Homo sapiens: one gene and its partner. The protein of the gene in region 1 purifies or fractionates together with the protein of each later gene. This does not show direct contact. Each region holds a gene or a part of one and is shown on either strand. Other genes may lie near its edges.

Region 1 (3,657 bases):
CTCACTCTGATGCCTCGGCTGGTCTTGAACTCTTAGCCTCAAGTGATCCTCCCAATTCAGCCTCCCAAAGTGCCAGGATAACAGTTGTGAGCCACTGCACCCAGCCTGTATGTAAAATTTTTAAAACTCTGCTGTATATTTGAAAATCATCATCATAAAATGTTGAGGCAAATTAAAGTTCTCATAAACAAAGGAATGAGAAATGTAAAATATATATTTCCCTTGGCAGCTCACAATTCCAGAAACATTTTATGAAAAGATTAAGTCAATGGCATCCATCCAAACAATCCCATATCCCACATACACCACGTTGTAGCCCTTGTTTCACAATCTGTTATAAATAAAGAGCCTCTGGGATTCCAATCCCCCAATCAAATCCTTAAGTGCTACTAAAGGTGGCTGGTCATTTATTCAGCCACAGGATGGAAACCCAAGCACAAACATGTAACACGTTTTAATTACCATATGGAGAAAATTCAAGTTTCAGCACTCTGTAAATTATAGTGTTAGCAATATCGAAATACCCAAGAAATAAAAATCTCACTCAAGAGTTTTTATGCCTGTAACCCCAGCACTTTGGGAGGCCAAAGCAGGCAGATCGTTTGAGCCCAAGAGTTCGAGACTGGCCTAGGCAACATGGTAAAACTCCGTCTCTACAAAAAAATACAAAAATTAGCCAGGCATGGGTAGTGGCCTGTACCTGTAGTCCCAGCTACTCAGGAGGCTAAGGTGGGAGGATCACCTGAGCCTGGGAAGGTCCAGGCTGCAGTAAGCCATGAGCACCACTGCACTCTATGTACTCTGGATGATAAAGAGGAGAGACCCTGTCTCCAAAAAAAAAAAAAAAGGTGGGGGGCCAGGTACAGTGTGGCTCATGCCTGTAATTCCAGCACTTTGGGAGGTTGAGGCAGGCAGATCACTTGAGGTCAGGAGTTCAAGACAAGCCTGGCCAACATGGTGAAACCCCATTGCTATCAAAAATACAAAAATTAGCCAGGCGTGGTGGCAGGTGCCTGTAATCCCAGCTACCTGGGAGGCTGAGGCAGGAGAATCGCTTGAACCCAGGAGGCGGGGGTTGCAGTGAGCTGAGATCACGCCACTGCACTCCAGCCTGGCCAACAGAGTGAGAGTCTGTCTCCAAAAAAAAAAAAAAAAAGAAAAAGAAAAAGAAAAGAAGAATTTTTATATAAGAATCACAAACTTTCTACAAAAAATTCTCTATGAGAATCTTTGAGGGAAAAGAATTCAAATGCAGTTATGTACACATTAACATTGTCTTTCACAATCCTTTAATTAAACTCAAATCCACCAATATCCCAACATCTTATTAGATAATCAGCAAGAAATATCAAACTTAAGTAGAAAAATATTGAGAAAACAAAAATGTGAAATCATAAAAAGTAACACATTGGACAACATAGTGAGACCCCATCTTAAAAAAAAAAAAAAAACTAGCCTGGTGCATCTGCAGTCCCAGCCACTCAGGAAGCTGAGGCAGAGATCACTTGAGCCCATGAGTCTGAGGCTGCAGGGAGCTATGATTCCTGTCACTGCACTCCAGCCCCAGCCTGGGTGACAAAACAAGACCCTGTCTCTAAATAACAACCAAACAAACCTAAAACCCCAAAAAAACACTTGTGGAGGGATAACATCTCTTGTATTTATACAACTTTCTAAGATTTCCTATTTTTATTAGCCACCTAAATTTATGCATATTCCAATTCCAAAGAGCAAAGTAGTCTTACCAGGCCTTCAAAACACAAGACAGTACCTTTAAACCTCCCCAGAGCAATATCTAAAGAGAAAGATATTGTCATACAATACTCATTAAAAAATTTTTTTTAATTGCCAAATTTTAAATTTTTTTTTTTTTTTTTTTTTTTAGATGGACTCTTGCTCTGTCACCCAGACTGGAGTGCAGTGGCACAATCTCGCTTCACTGCAACCTCCACCTCCCAGGTTCAAGTGATTCTCTTGCCTCAGCCTCCCGGGTATGCTGGGATTACAGGCACGTGCTACCACACCTGGCTAATTTTTGTATTTTTAGTAGAGACGGGATTCACCATGTTGGCCAGGCTGGTCTTGAACTCCTGAGCTCAAATGATCCGCCCGCCTCAGCCTCCCAAAGTGCTGGGATTACAGGCGTGAGCCACCATGCCTGGCAGTTGCCAAATTTTATACCAAAGGTGTATTCCTCCTTACAAACTTTCAGAGGTAGTATGTATATTTTTACATTATTTATTAGAAACCATAAATAGGTAAATAAAAATTCCAAAAATGGTTAAAGTGGATGTTTCTAATTTGTTACTTTTCAAATTCCAGACTATACTTCATAAAAGAAGGGGATGTTATATACTTGTTATGTATCCTACTGTGCCTAGCAGGAGGGCAGTAAGCGATAGACAAGGATAGCCAGCAGAGACCTTTTCAAAATGGACTTACATTATATACATAAGTCCCTTTTAAACTCTATCAGGAAGAGGGAGAGAATGACAAGTCTTTTATCTATCTGACCCTAAAGTCCTACAATAATTACAATGATTAGTAAAATGTGTGAGTTCTATAACTGCTAACAAAAATAAAATGTGTGAGTTCTATAACTGCTAACAAAAATAAGATACAGACTAGTCTACAGACTAGTCTGCTTCACTGACACTATGATTAAATAATCATCAGAGAAATGAGTCAAGAATTTACCTTTGTACTGGCCACACCAATCTCAGGACCAGCATTAATATGAACTCCACAATCTGTCTCCCGTGATATGGAACTGCCAACTGTGTTTGTGATCCCCACAGTTAAAGCTCCTCTCTCCTTACAGTAACGAAGACCCATCAAAGTATCTGCTGTCTCACCTGTGTAAAAAGTAGGCCAACCATAACACACAGAACAGTTTTAACATATGCTGTTTCTTAGGAGCAAAAACAAATTGACCACACTTTCAACAATATTACTTGTTTTAAATAAAATACAAAACATCCACTTAATAAATTTATAAAACTTTAAGTAATATGGCTTGTCAGGATCTCTCTTCCTTCTCTGTCATTGAAAATCCAGCTCTTTGAACACAAAAGGTGTTCATTTTTACTAATTCATAAAGAATTATGTAACATTAAAATAAATCTGTATTCGTCAAGTCATCTGCAATGCCAGTTTATCTTTAAATATCAGCTTTTGCCAAGATATGCTAGAATTATTAGAAAGAATAACTTTCCTTCCTTTTAAGTCTTTAAAATTAACACACCTGATTGACTAAGGAAAAAGCAAACATCATCTCGAAAGACTGGTGTGTTTCTGTCCAGGAAGTCACTTGCTAGTTCCACCATCACAGGCAACTCAGTCAGCTCCTCAAGAACTTGACGTGTCTGCAGAGAAAATATGACTTGGTCACAGAACTTTCCTTCAAATACTCTTTCATCGGACTTCTTTGGATTCAATGTATAGTTTTTGCTTTTTCTGATTACAAAAATGACACGTTAGAAAATAAAAACAACCCAGATTAAAATATTTAAAAAAAAAAAATCAAAATCCTACCACTTGAGATAAGCATGGCTAACATTTTACTATCAGTCTCTTTAGACAACTATCTATGTATACATTCCTTTTTTTTTTTTTTTTGAGACGGAGTCTCGCTCTGTCGCCAGGCTGGAGTGCAGT
Region 2 (3,657 bases), on another chromosome or scaffold:
TAATGCACATAAGTCCCATCTGTGGGGATCCTGCCAATGGCGTATCCAGCTTGAACATGTGCCATTCTATTACCCTTTGTGGGCGTGCTTGCATGGGGAAATCCGGGCATGTGTAGAAAAGTTATACTGCAGCTGAAGCGGGCTGAGAGGGTCTTTTTTCCCTAGGGAACGCCAAATAAACTGCGTGTTTTACACCTGCATTTTGACTGTGACATCAAAATGCACATGTAATGTCATGTCAGTGCTCAAAAAGTTTCAGATTTTGGAGCATTTCAAATTTCAGATTTTCAGATTAGGGATGCTCAACCTCTAAATTTAAGTTAAGATAATAGGTTGCCTGGTTGCCATGACACTAAAAAACGTGTCTTTTGCAACTATAAACTTTTGATTTGAGAAGATAGTATTGGCTAAGAAGTTCCTCCAGTTCAGCTTCAAAGTCCTAGCTATAAAAATGTAAAGCAAAGGGACAAACATCATTTGGCATCATTCCCTGAAAAATAAATGGCTCCATCACAATAACAGATACATGATCCAAAACAAAGCTGCTGGTCCCCAGGGGTGGATGACAATGCCCAGTGCTTCCACCACTGCAGCAGCATTAAAGCTACTCCTTACTGATAGATAAAATGACGGTGGCGCTTTATTAGTCTGCATTCCCCAAAAGAACAGCAAAGGGACTGTCTGCCACTGCATGCAGAGTAAGAAGGTTTGATTAGGCTACTCCCCAATTCTGACACTCTCCACCATCAACGGCAAACTATGAGCCATTAATGGCAAACTATGAGGATGAAAAGTCCTTGATGTATTCCTCTTTCTTCTTTGTACTCGGGTTTTTGGCTGACATTAGAGAAAGAAGAGGTTTAAATCAGGTGGAAATCCTAGATAAGCTTAAAACATGCTTTCAAATTTCAAAAAGTAAACCTATTATGTATGTGCATGACCCATAAATATGCTTCACACTCCATCCAACTCACTCCATAATTTGTGAATCTTTTGTCTATAAGTCCTCACTGAACTGTCCAAAAATGGGCTTTGCCTCCAGTGACTACAAAGTCACTACCTGGTCACCCCTCTCTGCTCTATCAGGGATGATCTGTAACTAGCAGGTGGGGGCCTGTAAACAGTCTTCTGCTGACTCTTCTGGGCTGAACTGCCTGAAGGGTTAGTGACCATAAAGCATTCGGTGATATTAGTAAGCAACAGCTTCCCAAATCTACCTTACCCACCTCTTTGGCCTAAACTTTGCAGGTAACTTATTTAAAAAGGAGAAGGGTCCTTTGGGTAACGGATGTATTACTTCCTACTCTCCTAAAACCAAACTCCAATGCTGCACCTTAAATAAAAGCCCTCAAATCTTGCCTCCTGACGTCATGCTGTCATTTGACTTGGCTGCAGGCCCTGATACTCCCCTGCAGGGAGAGGGCCTGCTCTTTGCCCCAGCCTTTACCCCATTCCTCCTTTCTTTCATTCAGTCTCCTTCTACTCCCAGTACACCTCTGGCTGTATTTTATTGTAGTGGTAAACTTTATTTTTACCAAAAAGGAGGTGTGGGGGGGATTTCTGAATACTTTATATAAGCCTAAAGTATACATTCTGCTCATTAGACAGACTGCTAGCTGCCCCAACTACATAAACTTAGATGCTTGGTAGAAGCAATGGAACAAACTTCTCTACTTTTACAAATATAACATTTGGCTAATTTAGAATAGAAATTAATTATTTTCAAAATATTTAACTTCTTGTAACTTTTTAATAAAAGAAATAACACTGTTCAAGTGAAACAGGGCACTTCCTATTTCATTTAAGGGGAAAGCCAAGCTGATAATGCCATAATACCACCTAGCGTTCTCATGTATATGACATTATTTGACTTAGAAAAAATTTTTAATACTCTCTTCTTCTACCTCCCACTAGCAGGAAATTCCATTCTTGCCTTTCCTTTTCACCATTTCATCTCCAATCACCTAGAAAAATGATGTCTGGTGCATAGTAGACCCTTAATAAAGGAATAAAGAAATGTGTAAAAGGAATTTCCTGAATAACTATTTTAAAACTTTTTAAATGAGAAGACTATTATTAAGAGTCTTCCTATGAGCAGGCAACAAACAATGACAAAAGCTATTGTTCACAGATAAAAATGTCCAAAATGTGATTAGGATGTAAATCTCTATCAATGCCTGACAGGTATCTATCAAGAAGTCTCAAAAAATACCAAGAAACATACCAACCAAATGCATGAACCTTGAATGAAATCTGGCTCAAAACAAACAAGAACCAGCTATAAAGATATTCTTGGTAGCACTTTGAGAGGTCAAGGTGGGCAGATTACCTGAGCTCAGGAGTTCCAGACCACCCTGGGCAACATGGTGAAACCCTGTCTTTACTAAAATACAAAAAATTAGCTGGGCATGGTGGCAGGTGCCTGTAGTCCCAGCTACTTGGGAGGCTGAGGCAGGAGAATTGCTTGAACCTGGGAGGCAGAGGTTGCAGTAAGCCGAGATCGCACCACTGCACTCCAGCCTGGGTGACAGAATGAGACTCTGTCTCAAAATAAATAAATAAATAAAAATATTCTTGGGACACTTAGGGAAATTTCATTTAAGTATTAACTGGATATTAGGTGGTATTATGGACTCTTAGGTTTAATAATGGCATTGATGTTATGTAGAAGAATGTCCTTATTCTTAGGAGATAAATGCTTATATATTTAGGAGTGTCATAATATCTGCACTGTACTCTCAAATGATTCAGCAAAAACATGTGTGTGTGTGTGTGTGTGTGTGTAGAAAGAAAAATCAAGCAACTATGGCAAAACATTAATGACTATTTAATCTAGGTGCTTGTTGTTCTGTTCTTTACTGTATGTTAGGAATTTTTTCAAAATGAAAAGCTGGGGAGAAGGAGAAAAAATTCTAAGAGTCAATGAAACTGAACTGTAATCCCCATTTTTATCACTTTTTTTGTGACCAAGTCATTTCACTCACCTTTTTATTCATCAGTTCCCTATTTACATACTTAGAGCAAATGAGATAACGAACATAGAGTGCTTTGCAAAGGAAAAAGCATGATACAGAATATGTAACATCATCGTAACCAACAAACTCTGAAGTTTAATCGCATCCAGACATCTGGTTTCTTTCTCCTCACCTTCTTATGGTTGTAGATTTCACCATTGTAACAGAGCCACAAATACGGATATTTCTTCACTCGAATTGGCTGCATTCCAAACAGCGGGTCAACTACCGCCAACCGGTGAAATCCAAAGCAGCAGTTGGTGTATCCATTGACATTCTCAAAACGGAATGCATCTGGACCTCTGTGTGCAATCTTCATAGCACTCAGACACTGAACAGAAAGGCAATCATCACTGCCAAACAGCGCCCAAATGCCACACATGGTGCAATGAAGCTATAAGCTTTCTATGGAGAGAAAAGCAGACAAATCAAAAATATTCAATATCCAATCCAACTCTGCATTAAATCTTGATTCCGGAAACGTGCATAAACCACTTCAAAGACTAAAATTTAAACCATCTTTTCTATAGCGATTTCCCATTAGGTTGGCAGGCACATGGGAGTAGAGAATGATTTAATTTACTTACAGGTATTCGGAAAAGATAGTGACCTCTACATTCAACCGGCTACAGCAGCTTAGCAC

Evidence for each region. The genes of interacting proteins can lie anywhere in the genome.
Region 2: the proteins of GFPT1 (region 1) and ASNS fractionate together in Homo sapiens (co-fractionation; one large-scale study listed by BioGRID). This does not show direct contact.

The regions. Positions count from the first base shown.
Region 1 is NC_000002.12:69,335,201-69,338,857, forward strand, and holds part of GFPT1 (glutamine--fructose-6-phosphate aminotransferase [isomerizing] 1), read right to left. Parts: intron 3,366-3,657; coding exon 3,245-3,365; intron 2,856-3,244; coding exon 2,698-2,855; intron 1-2,697.
Region 2 is NC_000007.14:97,865,761-97,869,417, forward strand, and holds part of ASNS (asparagine synthetase [glutamine-hydrolyzing]), read right to left. Parts: intron 3,420-3,657; 5' UTR 3,397-3,419; coding exon 3,148-3,396; intron 1-3,147.